4 linked regions of the Homo sapiens genome follow. Changing the gene in region 1 together with any one later gene gives a genetic interaction. Each region holds a gene or a part of one and is shown in the gene's direction. Other genes may lie near its edges.

The links. A genetic interaction does not mean that the proteins touch.
Region 2: changes in LARS1 (region 1) and MCM3AP together harm fitness more than expected from each alone (negative genetic interaction), as found in Homo sapiens cells (one large-scale study listed by BioGRID).
Region 3: changes in LARS1 (region 1) and UBA2 together harm fitness less than expected from each alone (positive genetic interaction), as found in Homo sapiens cells (one large-scale study listed by BioGRID).
Region 4: changes in LARS1 (region 1) and GTPBP4 together harm fitness less than expected from each alone (positive genetic interaction), as found in Homo sapiens cells (one large-scale study listed by BioGRID).

Annotation. Positions count from the first base shown.
Region 1 is NC_000005.10:146,172,651-146,176,150, reverse strand, and holds part of LARS1 (leucine--tRNA ligase, cytoplasmic), read left to right. Parts: intron 1-3,376; coding exon 3,377-3,464; intron 3,465-3,500. UniProt on the Homo sapiens protein: Aminoacyl-tRNA synthetase that catalyzes the specific attachment of leucine to its cognate tRNA (tRNA(Leu)).
Region 2 is NC_000021.9:46,282,812-46,286,786, reverse strand, and holds the start of MCM3AP (germinal-center associated nuclear protein), read left to right. Parts: upstream 1-1,175; 5' UTR 1,176-1,500; coding exon 1,501-2,719; intron 2,720-2,948; coding exon 2,949-3,172; intron 3,173-3,975.
Region 3 is NC_000019.10:34,431,381-34,434,880, forward strand, and holds part of UBA2 (SUMO-activating enzyme subunit 2), read left to right. Parts: intron 1-480; coding exon 481-551; intron 552-1,967; coding exon 1,968-2,032; intron 2,033-3,487; coding exon 3,488-3,500. UniProt on the Homo sapiens protein: The heterodimer acts as an E1 ligase for SUMO1, SUMO2, SUMO3, and probably SUMO4. It mediates ATP-dependent activation of SUMO proteins followed by formation of a thioester bond between a SUMO protein and a conserved active site cysteine residue on UBA2/SAE2.
Region 4 is NC_000010.11:1,012,434-1,015,933, forward strand, and holds part of GTPBP4 (GTP-binding protein 4), read left to right. Parts: intron 1-31; coding exon 32-229; intron 230-1,813; coding exon 1,814-1,879; intron 1,880-3,319; coding exon 3,320-3,463; intron 3,464-3,500. UniProt on the Homo sapiens protein: Involved in the biogenesis of the 60S ribosomal subunit. Acts as a TP53 repressor, preventing TP53 stabilization and cell cycle arrest.

The DNA of each region.
Region 1 (3,500 bases):
AGACAAAGTCTTGCTGTGTCATTCAAGCTGGAGTGCAGTGGCACAGTCATAGCTCACTGTAACTTCAAACTCCCGAGCTCAAGCAATCCTTCTTCCTCGGCCTTCTGAGTAGCTGGGACTACAGGCATGCGCCACCATGCCTGGCTAATTTGTTTTTTCTTAGAGACAGGGTCTTGCTATGTTGCCCAGGCTGGTCTCAAACTCCTGGCTTCAAGTGATCCTTCTGCCTTGGCCTCTCAAAGCTCTTAAGATTATAAGACATGAGCCATCACTCCTGGCCTCATTTTACCTTTTAATTTTTTTTGTTTTTGTTTTTTTTTTTTGAGACGGAGTCTTGCTCTGTCACCCAGGCTGGAGTGCAGTGGCGCAATCTCGGCTCACTGCAAGCTCCGCCTGCCGGGTTCACGCCATTCTCCTGCTTCAGCCTCCTGAGTAGCTGGAACTACAGGCGGCTGCCACCATGCCCGGCTAATTTTTTTGTATTTTTAGTAGAGATGGGGTTGCATTGTGGTCTCGATCTCCTGACCTCGTGATCTGCCTGCCTCGGCCTTCCAAAGTGCTGGGATTACAGGCGTGAGCCACTGCGCCCGGCCTTTTTTTTTTTTTTTTTGAGGTGGAGTCTTGCTCTGTTGCCTAGGCTGGGTGCAGTGGCATGATCTCGGCTCACTGCAACCTCTGCCTCCCGGGTTCAATGATTTTTCTGCCTCAGCCTCCCCAGTAGCTGGGATTACAGGTGCATGCCACCACGCCTGGCTAAGTTTTAATTTTTGTTTTTAATAGAGACGGGGTTTTGCCATGTTGGCCAGTCTGGTCTCAAACTCAAATGATCCGCCTGCCTCCGACTCCCAAAGTGCTGGGATTACACGCGTGAGCCACTGTGCCCGCCCATTATCTTTTTTTTTTTTTTAATTTGGAGACAGAGTCTGTGGTGTCAGATGGAGCGAGCCTCTGTCACCCAGGCTGGAGTGCAGTTGTGTGATCTCAGCTCACTGCAACCTCTGTCTCCTGGGCTCAGGTGATCCTCTCACCTCAGCCTCCTGAGTAGGTGGGACTGTAGGCGCACGCCACCACACCCAGGTAATTTTTCTATTTTTAGTAGAAATGGGGTCTTGTTATGTTGCTGAGGCTGGTCCCAACTCCTGGGCTCAAGTGATCTGCCCACCCCGGCCTCCCAAAGTGCCGGGATTATAGGCATGGGCCACTGCACCCAGCATTGAAAAAATTTCTTTTGTAGAAATGAAGTTTCACTGTCTTGCCCAGGCTAGTCTTGAACTCCTGGGCTCAAGTAATCCTCCCACTTTTGCCTCCCAAAGTGTTGGGATTACAGGTTTGAGCCACCATGCCTGGCCTTAATCTTCTCAATATACTTTAAGGTTAACAGCTTTTAAAATTTCTCTTTTACAGCTGAGGAAACTGAGGCACAGAGAGGCTAAGTAACCAGTTCAAGGTTACATCACTGGGAATTGACTGGGCCTGGGCTTGTTTTTAGGACTTTCTGATTCAAAAGTCTTTTTTCCTTGCTTATTAAGCTATATTCTAATGGATATATATATATATATATATGGATATATACATATATGGATATATATATATATGGATATATACATATATGGATATATATATATATATGGATATATATATATATATATGGATATATATATATATGGATATATATATATATATATGGATATATATATATATATTTGAGACAGAGTTTTGCTGTTGTTGCCCAGGCTGGAGTGCAATGGTGTGATCTCGGCTCACCGCAACCTCCGACTCCCGTGTTCAAGCGATTCTCCTGCCTCAGCCTCCCCTGTAGCTGGGATTACAGGCATGCGCCACCACGCACAGCTAATTTTGTAGTTTTACTAGAGACGGGTTTTCTCCACGTTAGGCTAGTCTTGAAATCCCAACCTCAGGTGATCCGCCCGCCTCCGCCTCCCAAAGTGCTGGGATTAGAGGTGTGAGCCACCAGGCCCCAGCCTTTTTTTTTTTTTTTTTTTTTTAAGAGAAAAAGAAATTGCTGTAATATAGTCTCTGGTGTTATACTTGAAGCTATAATTTGAAGCTTCTATTTTCTTCTAGAGGTTTGGTTAACTTTAAGGTAATTTAAAATAATTACAAGTGAACTGAAAAAGCTGCTTTGTTTAGTGAAAGAGAATTAACTATAGGTGTATGCAGTAAGACTGAAGAAAGTAATATAATGTCAAGTGAAGAAGGCAAATTGCAGAAGTCTATATGAAGTATGCCTTTTTTTTGTATGAAACTCACAAGTGAGCGAAACTAAATGATAAATAGTTTAAGGGTGCTGCCAAGTGTGCAAACTATTCAAAAACAAGGGAACGGTAAAAGCAAATTTCAGAATGTCGGTTATCTCTTGTGGGACAGTAGAGAGGAAACAGGTAGTTTCAGTGGATTCATAAGTCAGATGGTGTGTTTACAAGTGTTCATTTTATTATGCTTCATAACACAGTATGTATGTTAGATATTCTTCATAAGAAAAAAGAATACAGACCAAGCATGGTGGCTCATGAGCTCATGCTCATGGTGGTTCTTATATTGAGAACCCTGTCTTTACAAAAACAACTAAAAAATTAAAAAAAAAAAAAAAGCTTTAAAGGATGCGTTTAAAGTGAATCTACCACATATCAAGTAATATTGAGGATGTTTTATATTACCTGAGGGACTTTGAATTGCTTTATATATATATCTAGTATCTAGTGAAAACAAATCTCATTTATTCAGTAAAATATTAAATTAGCCTAGGTTCATAAGGGTATTAAAGAATTTTTTTTTTTTTGAGATGGAGTCTCATTTTCGCCCAGGCTGGAGTGCAGTGGCATGATCTCAGCTCATTGCAACCTCTGCCTCTCAGGTTCAATGATCAGGCGATTCTTGATTCTCATGCTTAACCACTAGAGTAGCTGGGATTATCAGCGCACGCCATCACGCCCGGCTAGTTTTTAGTAGAGACAGGGTTTCACCATGTTGCCCAGGCTGGTCTCGAACTCCTGGCCTCAAGCAGTCCACCAGCCTTGGCCTCCCAAAGTGTTGGGATTACAGGTGTGAGCCACCACGCCTGACCTAGTATATTATCTTTACTCAAGTATTTTAGCTCAAATTAAACCTCTAGTATTTGTTACAAGGCTATTTAATTCTTAATAGCAACCTATCAATGTCTTATTTCTTGTAAATCTAAAGTAATTTTCAATTTTAGAGAGTTTTAAATTTGTAGATTTATAAATTTACTTTTAAATATTTTTTAAATAACCTTAAGTTATTTATATCAAGCATTTCCTTCACCCCACTTCCTTATTGTAAAAGGAACTTAACATTTATTCTTCTGTACTTTCTTTTTTATACTGTTGTTTTGCAGCAAGGGCAAGTATTTTGTAACCTTCCCATATCCATATATGAATGGACGCCTTCATTTGGGACACACGTTTTCTTTATCCAAATGTGAGGTAATGTTTCCCTATGTTTGCTATAATGGGGAGGAA
Region 2 (3,975 bases), on another chromosome or scaffold:
ACTTTATTTGGTGGAACTGATTGAAAATCTTAAGGGAATTTACATTTACCACAAGGAGGAAGCAACAACGAGGGTCTATGGAAGGATGCCGCGGAATCCGGCCAGAAGGACTCCAGGCGGGCGGAGCGGAAGGAGCGGTTCCCAGAGAAAAGGGGGCGGGTTGGGGGTGCGCGCGGAGAGAGGCGCGCGGACGCGGCGGGGTGCGGGGAGGGGCAACGGCTGGGGAGAGAAGGGGCTGGAATGGGGGAGGGACAGGAGAGGGGACAGGTAAGCGTTGGGGGCCGGGTCCTCTGGGGTCTGGGGCGCCCGCAGACCCACGCGGGTGAATGCGACGCTCTCGCTTGGGAGACTAAAAACCCGCCCGGACGTACCGGTGTCTGGACCCAGCAAAGGACGCGAGAGCGGGCGGACCCTCCCGACCGGAAGCCCCGCCACAGAGCGGGTTGTGGGGAGCGGAACCGGATCGCAGCGGGCGGGGCGGAATCCGGTAGTGCTGAGCGAACCGGAAGTCGGTCCGCGGCGTTTTCTGCCCGCGGTGCGCAGCGCTGAGTGTCGCGGCAGCAGCCTGTGCTTGCGCCTCAAGTCTTTCCGAGGGGCCAGTGGGCAGCGCGGGCCTCGGGGTCCTGGGGCGAGACGGTGAGCGTGGGGGCTGGGCCGGCGCCAGGGGCGCCGTTTCCTTCCCCCACGCAGCTCCGCGCGCCCGGGCCTCCACATCGTCGCTAACGGAGCGTTGCGGCGCCGGCGACCCCTGGCGAGCCCGGGGCGGGACAGTGGCCAGGCCGGCCTGGGCCCAGCGCGTGGCCTCCGCCGTTTCGGGCTGTGCTGGGTGGAAGATTAGGCTCCCCGGGCACGCCGTCCCCGCCGAGAGGCCTCAGCTTCGTGGCAGCGCCCTCGTCCTTCCAGCCCGCTCGAGGGTGGCCGCCAGGGCGCGATGAAGGAATGTGAGAAAGTGCTTAGCGCTCCAGCCGCTCCGAGGGAAGCCAGGTGGGAGGAGATCCCGAAACGCTAAGGTTTTGACAGCGTTACAGTGAATTCTCCGGCTGTAGAGATTGGAGGAAGTCGGGAGAAATTCGTCTCTAAGTTGTAAGGTGGAACAGCATTCATTTTCTTACTGCCAATGGAGGTTTTTCATGAATTTACTAACTCAGTAAAAAGATTCGGCTTTTTTTTTTTTAATCTTAAAGGATCACGCTTTAAACCTCTGTAACAAAGTAATTATTTGTACCACTCTCTACCCCACCCTCCAACAAAATAACCTATCGGCTCTCAGAAAATAATAACCCTTTGCCTGCCTTTGAAATAGTTATCCTTTTAGTATGACAGTGTTCAAAAATTCTTTTCTTAGACTTGTAGCAGAACATAGCTATGATGATCTGAATTTTTCTCTTTCAGCTTGTTCTAAAGACGAAGGGGAACTCCCTAGTGCTACAGGCTGTTTCAGGAAGCCAATTAATTTTGTACACATAATACTTAATTACCTTCTAATAATTGGAGCAGAAGATGAACCCAACTAATCCTTTCAGTGGGCAGCAGCCTAGTGCTTTTTCGGCGTCTTCTAGTAATGTAGGAACACTTCCATCTAAGCCGCCATTTCGATTTGGTCAACCTTCTCTTTTTGGACAAAACAGTACCTTATCTGGGAAGAGCTCGGGATTTTCACAGGTATCCAGCTTTCCAGCGTCTTCTGGAGTAAGTCATTCCTCTTCAGTGCAAACATTAGGGTTCACCCAAACCTCAAGTGTTGGACCCTTTTCTGGACTTGAGCACACTTCCACCTTTGTGGCTACCTCTGGGCCTTCAAGTTCATCTGTGCTGGGAAACACAGGATTTAGTTTTAAATCACCCACCAGTGTTGGGGCTTTCCCAAGCACTTCTGCTTTTGGACAAGAAGCTGGAGAAATAGTGAACTCTGGTTTTGGGAAAACAGAATTCAGCTTTAAACCTCTGGAAAATGCAGTGTTCAAACCAATACTGGGGGCTGAATCTGAGCCAGAGAAAACCCAGAGCCAAATTGCTTCTGGGTTTTTTACATTTTCCCACCCAATTAGTAGTGCACCTGGAGGCCTGGCCCCTTTCTCTTTTCCTCAAGTAACAAGTAGTTCAGCTACCACTTCAAATTTTACCTTTTCAAAACCTGTTAGTAGTAATAATTCATTATCTGCCTTTACCCCTGCTTTGTCAAACCAAAATGTAGAGGAAGAGAAGAGAGGACCTAAGTCAATATTTGGAAGTTCTAATAATAGCTTCAGTAGCTTCCCTGTATCATCTGCGGTTTTGGGCGAACCTTTCCAGGCTAGCAAAGCAGGTGTCAGGCAGGGGTGTGAAGAAGCTGTTTCCCAGGTGGAACCACTTCCCAGCCTAATGAAAGGACTGAAAAGGAAGGAGGACCAGGATCGCTCCCCAAGGAGACATGGCCACGAGCCAGCAGAAGATTCGGATCCTCTGTCCCGGGGCGATCATCCTCCAGACAAACGACCTGTCCGCCTGAATCGACCCCGGGGAGGTACTTTATTTGGTCGGACGATACAGGATGTTTTCAAAAGCAATAAGGAAGTAGGTCGTCTGGGCAACAAGGAGGCCAAAAAGGAAACTGGCTTTGTTGAGTCTGCAGAAAGTGACCACATGGCTATCCCAGGAGGGAATCAGTCTGTCCTGGCACCTTCCCGGATTCCAGGTGTGAATAAAGAGGAAGAAACTGAAAGTAGAGAGAAGAAAGAAGGTGAGCTCTGAAAATGTAGCACATAGAGTAAATCCTGCAGGCAGGTTTTCAATACGTTTCTCTGGGTGTTAGCTTGATTTTTCAGATAAATCTCCCATAAACATTAGGGATTCTAACATGTCATCGGAGCAGGTCTTACATCTGAAAATTTCCTCTGCTTCGACACAGTTGGTGCCTCCTGTTGTTGGAAACATCTGATGGTTTAAGTGTCCATTCTCTGAACCCCTAGATTCTCTAAGAGGAACTCCGGCGCGTCAGAGTAACAGAAGCGAGAGCACAGACAGTCTTGGGGGCTTGTCTCCCTCTGAAGTCACAGCCATCCAGTGCAAGAACATCCCTGACTACCTCAACGACAGGACCATTCTGGAGAACCATTTTGGCAAAATTGCTAAAGTGCAGCGCATCTTTACCAGGCGCAGCAAAAAGCTTGCAGTGGTACATTTCTTTGATCATGTGAGTACTCCCATCTTGCCATTTGTTACCCTAGATTTGAACCTTGTCACTTTAAAACCTGTTTTTTTTTTTTGGTCCCTCAGTTGTTTGCTTACTATAATATAGAGAAAGTACTCAAATATCTTATTAGCATAGGCTGGGATAGCACTATTTATTTCATAACTTGGCATATTCTAGGTCCCTACAGAATATAGTACTCTAGAAATGCTGGGAGAGTTGTTCTCATGAAGTGAAATTCTTCTGAAAGGCTTTAGAAATTCAGAAATTCTTCTGAAAGGCTCTAACCACATAGTACTTTTGGAAGTTGAGTTTTTTGGTTTTGTTTTTGTTTTATTTGGTCATAGAAGATGATCGCTGTAAACGTTCAAACAATACAGAAAAAGTGAAATTGGCCGGGCGTGGTGGCTTACGCTTGTAGTCCCAGCACCTGGGGAGGCCAAGGTGGGCGGATCATGAGGTCAGGAGATCCAGACCATCCTGGCTAACACGGTGAAACCCCATCTCTACTAAAAATACAAAAAATTAGCTGGGTGTGGTGGCTCGCGCCTGTCATCTCAGCTACTCGGGAGGCTGAGGCAGGAGAATTGCTTGAATCCGGGAGGCGGCGGTTGCAGTGAGCCGAGTTCGTGCCACTGCACTCCAGTCTGGGAGACAGAGCCAGACTCCGTCTCAAAAAAAAGAAAAAGAAAAAAAGTGAAATTCCCCTTGTCAGTCTGTCCTCTAGAGATAACTGCTTTGAAGCACTGGGTTTGTATCCTGACTTTAAATGTATGCATAATACTTTCTTTTTATTTATTTATTTA
Region 3 (3,500 bases), on another chromosome or scaffold:
TGCTGGGATTACAGGCATGAGCCACCATGCCTGGCCTTTTCCTGTCATTCTCATGGCATTTATCAGAGTCTGTAGTTGAACTTAATCTGGATTGTTATTTGATTAATGTCTCTCTTGCTTGACATGTACGTTGTATAGTTCCTGGTACATGCAAGATGCTCAGTAAATACTTGTTAAGTGAATGAATGAATGACACTTGGTTACTTCATGTTGTATTTTTGCTGAAGCTTGCCATTCATGTAGAAGTGTGTTTGGTGGTACGTGGGTCAGGGGGGGCTCTCCGGTTATTTTATAAGTATAAAAGTATAATTTTATAAGTGTAGCTTAACCCTAATGCAATTTTCTCACATTTTTGGACTTCTTTGGTGTTTAATATAAATAAGGTACTATGTAAGTAGATAACAGCATTGTGGCTTCCAGAAGCAGATTTCAGATAGGAACAGAAATATTGTAGTAATTCAGTGTTGTTTATTTTTCCAGGTTGCCAAGGAAAGTGTACTGCAGTTTTACCCGAAAGCTAATATCGTTGCCTACCATGACAGCATCATGAAGTATGCTATAGTGATTACATTGCAAAGTTGTATAAGGGTTTTGTAAGCCAAATATATAAGCTCAAAGTCATTCAGCTTTTTTAAAAAAAATGATTTTTCTAGAATTATTAAACAGTGGTGGTTTCTGCTTACAGAGTGGCATTCTTTTTACCAGTTCATAAATACATGGTTTGAATGATTTAGAATGGTGAGATAGTTTAATACTTTTAATAAATAAGTTACTTGGAAATTTATAAAGACCTTATATGCTTGCCTTAAGTAAGAAGATATTTTAAACTATGAAATATCCTTATTTATGATGATTCAGACTTTTCTAAAGTGTTTGCCTTTTTTTGTTTAAAAGTTTCCCTCCCAAAATAATCTGTAGTATGACTCTGACTTCTGTAATATAACACTTGGAATTGTGGTAGGGCAGTAGTATTGACAGTACATAAATATATTTATCTCAGTAAAGATAGAGTAAATATATAATTTTGGAGGAGTTGGAGCAAAGGAACTGTGGGCCGAAATTGTCCTTTATCTATGGTGGTTTAGCTTGCAAGTAAATAGTGTTAAAAATAGTCCTTGTTTGAGGTACTGGAATTGAGGTACTTAACACTTTCTCAGGGCATTTGTATCTCCGGATTGTGTTTTTTTTGTGTGTGAGATAGGGTTTTGCGCTTATTGCCCAGGCTGGAGTACAGTGGCATGATCTTGGCTCACTGCAACCTCCGCCTCCTGGGTTCAAGCGATTCTCCTGTCTCAGCCTCCTGAGTAGTTGGGATTACAGGCGCACGCCACCACACTCAGCTAATTTTTGTATTTTAGTAGGCGGGGTTTCATCATGTTGGCCAGGCTGGTCTCAAACTCCCGACCTCAGGTGATCCACCCGCCTTGGCCTCCCAAAGTGCAGGGATTACAGGCGTGAGCCACTGCACCCGGCCTGTATCTCCGGCTTGTTTTTTAGTTTTTTACTCTGTGAACCTGCCTGTAGCCCTATAACCTCCTTACCCTGTGTTGCTTTCCCAGTGCTGCTAAAAACAGAGACCCTAGGGGCCTGAACCCTGCCTGATCCTGATCATGTGAGGTGAAGTCAGAGGCCAGGCAGATCCTGGGAATGTGTTCTTTATGCGTTCCCAGGCACTTGCTGCCCAAAGAAGGCCTAGTGGGACTAGTGAAGTCATGCCATCTTTCTGCCAGTTTGAGATCTTTCTCTTGTGCCCTAGCTGGCCAAAAAGGATAGGAATTTGAAGGAAATAATTTCTTTAAAATCTGCTTATGTTTGGAAAGAGTCAAACCTTACTATCTATATGACATATAATCCTGATATCAGTTTTGTTTACAGTTACTATGTTTTTTTCAGAACTGTTTATTATACTGCAAAGATCATGTGGAAGGCTAGTTATTTTGGTGACCTTTTTTTATTTTGTTTTGTAGCCCTGACTATAATGTGGAATTTTTCCGACAGTTTATACTGGTTATGAATGCTTTAGATAACAGAGGTGAGGTTATTTTAATACTTTTAATTTCTCAGTATTTCCTCTCTCCCATATCAAATTTGTTTACAAATTTAATATTTATTAGACTATTGTGATTTAGAACTTAAAAGACTTAAGAGAAATGATCGAGTTTAAAGCATGCCCATTGATTGCAGTTTTATATAGAAATGACTTATTCCAGGCGGGAATTTAGCTATCATATTCTCTGCATTTCTACCAAAAGGTATAAATAGAAGTGAAGTGAAAAGCTCTCAAAAAGTGTGACTGTGGCTCAGCACAGTGGCTCACGCCTGTAATCCCAGCACTTTGAGAGACCAAGGCAGGAGGATCACTTGAGGTCAGGAGTTCGAGACCAACCTAGTCAACATGGTGAAACCGTCTCTACCAAAAAACACAAAAATTAGCCGGTGTGGTGGCATGTGCCTGTAGTCCCAGCTTCTCCGGAGGCTGAGGTGGGAGAATCGCTTGAAGCCAGGAGGCAGAGGTTGCAGTGAGCCTAGATCACACCACTACACTCCAGCCTTGGTGACAGAGTGCGACCCTGTCTCAAAAAAAGAAAAAGTGTGACTGGAGGGTGGGGTGGGGGATGCTTGAGTGATATTCTTTGTCTGTAATTACTTCCACATGTAAAAGTATATCTACTAAGTGAGTTTACAACAAGTTGGGCCAGAAATATCTAAATAAAAAACACAAGGAAAAGTCAAAATTACGTTTATTTTTTAAGGCTTGGGGGGTCTCACTGTTGCCCAGACTAGAGTGCACTGGTGTGATCATAACTCACTGAAGCCTTCAAATGGGCTCAGGTGATACTCTTACCTCAACCTCTGCAGTAGCTACTCTGCAGACAGGTACCACCATACCCGGCTAATTTTTTTATGTTTATTTTTGTAGGGATGAAGTCTTGCTTTGTTGCCCAGGCTGGCCTCGAACTCCTGGCTTCAAGCAGTCCTCCCACCTCAGCCTCCCAGAATGCTGAGATTATGGGCATGAGCCAGTGCTCCTGGCGTGAAATTACTCTCTTAACCTGACTCATCTTTTTTCCCTAGCCTTAAACTACTTTAATAGTTCCAAGTTGATATTCCACATTCTGCCTTCATTTCTATCATGTATTATCTGCTAGTTATATTAGAATAGTGGTGAGTTTAGGAACACCTTGAAACAGTGTTTTGTGTAAGGTACAGCAATAGAAGAGAAATATGGCACGTTGGATTTTTAAGATTATGTGTTTCTGTGGGTACTTCTCCTGGAGTAAATTTGTGATATAAATTCTATTTGATATTTTGCTAAGTGAATGTCTCTTAAATGTCTGTAATTAACAGTTGTATTATTCTGGCCATAGCTATAAGAAAATTGTACAAAAAATGAAGCCAGTAAGATAGTTTTGAGTCTGTGTCATCCTAATTAAAGATAACTAATTTTTTTTTTCCCAAAAACTCATACTGTTTGTTTTACTTCCAGCTGCCCGAAACCA
Region 4 (3,500 bases), on another chromosome or scaffold:
ATTTTGCTTCATTACAACTCCATTTTTAAAGAAATTGGAAGAATTAGAAAAAGAAGAAGAGCTGAGAACAGCTGCTGGAGAGTATGACAGTGTATCTGAGAGTGAAGACGAAGAGATGCTGGAAATCCGACAGCTGGCAAAGCAAATTCGAGAGAAAAAGAAGTTGAAAATTCTGGAGTCCAAAGAAAAGAATACACAGGGACCCAGGATGCCGCGAACTGCTAAGAAGGCAAGTTTGTGTCTTTCCAAAGCAGTGTGATCTAGTTTTTGAAAATTGGATTCCTGTGTGATCATTGCTAAATAACAACTTTTCAACCCATTTATGGCCATAAGATTGCACATTCTTGTTTTATTGGTGTATGGATTTGCAAGATCGCTCACGTATTGATCTTTTATATTCTTTACTGCGTCCTTTCTTGGTGACTTTCAGCTTCGAGTTTGGCACTACTCTAGATCCAGTCATTTTGCAGTTGTACAGATTAAAACTGTAACTTATGGTTCACAGACGTTCAAGGCTATCAGTGAACATTTTCCTCTTCTTTTTTCTCTCTCTCTTTTTTTTAGGGGGGAGATGGAGTCTTGCTGTGTCTCCCAGGCTGGAGTGCAATGGCGCCATCTTGGCTCACTGCAGCCTCCACCTCGCGGGTTCAAGCAATTCTCCTGCCTCAGCCTCCCGAGTAGCTGGGATTACAGGCACCTGCCACTACGCCTGGCTAACTTTTGTATTTTTAGTGGAGATGGGGTTTCACCATGTTGGCCAGGCTGGTCTCAAACTCCTTACCTCAAGTGATCTGCCTGCCTTGGCCTCCCAAAGTGCTGAGATTACAGGCGTGAGCCACCACGCCCGGCTGGTTTTCTTGTTCTTTAATTTCTGCATTAAATCTGGACTCTTTAGGCCGGGCGCAGTGGCTCACGCCTGTAATCTCAGCACTTTGGGAGGCTGAGGTGGGTGGATCACGAGGTCAGGAGATTGAGACCATCCTGGCTAAAACAGTGAAACCCCGTCTCTACTAAAAATGCAGAAAAATTAGCTGGGCGTGGTGGCGGGCGCCTGTAGTCCCAGCTACTCGGGAGGCTGGGGCAGGAAAATGGTGTGAACCCGGGAGGCAGAGCTTGCAGTGAGCCGAGATTGTGCCAGTGCACTCCAGCCTGGGCAACAGAGCAAGACTCCATCTCAAAAAATAAAAAATTTAAAAAAAAATCTGGACTCTTTAGCAATTTACAGAAACCTGACGCAGTCTACAAAAGGCAATTTATTGGCTCTGTGGCAGGGTGGGACTGGGGGAAGAAAGCCCACATGCAGGGCAGTTAACATGTAACCAGAGAAGTCACTTGACATTCAGGATGCCTCTCAGTGGGTCTTCCTGTTTGAATACACTGTTTTCACATGGTGGCAAGTGACTGGTTATGGCGGACTTGGACATTTTTGTACTTCTCCAGGTGGGGCTCAGCCATCTCTGGGAGGAGAGAGGTTGGCGCACTGCCTTTGTCTGAGGCCACCTCACTAACCTCAGCTTTAGTGTCTCACCTCTGATGGAGACGGTCACTCTCTCCCCCGTGTTGCGGTGAAGAATGGACAGACGTGGAGGATACGCTGATTCTTCCCACAGCAACTGCTCTGTTAATGTTAGTTTTCGTGGGATTTAATTGAGCTATCCAAAAACATGAAAGCGGGGCCCAATAAAAATTACAACTTCTAAAATAAGTATATTATAATTGTTGCAAAATATGTATACATATATATTGCCTTGAAGTTTTTTTCAACATTTCATCAAACTAATTTAAAGCTAATATTTCTTTTTATCCTTCTCAGGTTCAGAGGACAGTTTTGGAGAAGGAGATGCGTAGTCTTGGTGTTGACATGGACGATAAAGACGATGTGAGTGTGGGGGCGGTTCATGTGTTTATGTGGCTGGATACACCTTTTTAATAAAGAAAACTGGCCGGGCGTGGTGGCTCATGCCTGTAATCCCAGCACTTTGGGAGGCCAAGGCGGGCAGATCATGATGTCAGGGGTTCGAGACCAGCCTGGCCAACATGGTGAAACCCAGTCTGTACTAAAAAAAATACAAAAAATTAGCCGGGCGTGGTGGCGTGTGCCTGTAATCCCAGTTACTCAGGATGCTGAGGCAGGAGAATTGCTTGAACTTGGGAGGCAGAGATTGCAGTGAGCTGAGATCGTGCCCCTGTACTCCAGCCTGGGCGACAGAGTGAGACTCCATCTCAAAAAAAAGAAAGAAAGAAACCAGGGTTTTGGAAAGCCGTGGGAACGTGGGAAATTACAGCAAAAAGAAATGAGAGCTTCCAGTTTTTCTCTTTTGAGATTCGCTGGCCCTGGGACTGACTTGAAGTGATGGGTTGAGGATTCCCTGACCCTGGGTCTGGGTTGAAGTGGTGGATTGAGGCTGCACTCCAGCCTGGGCAACAGAGCAAGACTGTGTCTCAAAAAAAAAAAAGCTCCACAGCCAGCACGAGACAGCACCATGACGTGCCCAGGGTGTGGCTGCAGACCCTGTCCTCTAGATGTGCAGTCTGCAGTTTCCGTCTGATGGTTTCTGTCTGATGGTTGTCCCTTTGTGTTCATATCAGTAACCCCCAAAATGGGGCAGTGAGGGAGAGAGCATTGTTTATATCTGAAATATAAATTGTGATGCTATACTATAATAATCACTTTTAAATGAGAGTTCTAAGTTTCTTTAAGTGGAGTTAAAATCAGCTTTCTTACGTAAAGCAGCTTCCGTTAAGTGAATAAGAATATTTGACCAACAACTAATGTGAAATTGTTACTAATGTGAACTTGAAATGGTGTCACTAATATGAAAATACTGCGTGTATTTTCAAGACCTTTAGCCCATGTGTTAATGGTTCAGACGCTCCTCTCCTCCCCTCTTGCTGGAGTGACCTCATGCCTGTCGCTGAGCCTGGGTGCGGGGCTGGGGTCCTGAGCTCTGAGCCTGGGAGTGGACCTGGGGTCCTGAGCGCTGAGCCTGGGAGTGGACCTGGGGTCCTGAGCGCTGAGCCTGGGAGTGGGGCTGGGGTCCTGAGCGCTGAGCCTGGGAGTGGGGCTGGGGTCCTGAGCTCTGAGCCTGGGAGCGGGGCTGGGGTCCTGAGCGCTGAGCCTGGGAGCGGGGCTGGGGTCCTGAGCGCTGAGCCTGGGAGCGGGGCTGGGGTCCTGAGCGCTGAGCCTGGGAGTGGACCTGGGGTCCTGAGCGCTGAGCACTGAGCCTGGGAGTGGACCTGGGGTCCTGAGCGCTGAGCACTGAGCCTGGGAGTGGACCTGGGGTCCTGAGCGCTGAGCATTGCTTCCCCTGCTTTGCAGGCCCATTACGCAGTCCAGGCAAGAAGATCCCGGAGCATCACTAGGAAAAGAAAGCGGGAAGACTCTGCTCCCCCGTCCTCTGTGGCCCGGAGTGGGAGTTGCTCTCGAACTCCACGTGACGTTTCTGGTCTTAGGGATGTCAAGGTCAGTCTCTGTGTTGTGTAATGTAATAAAATGACAG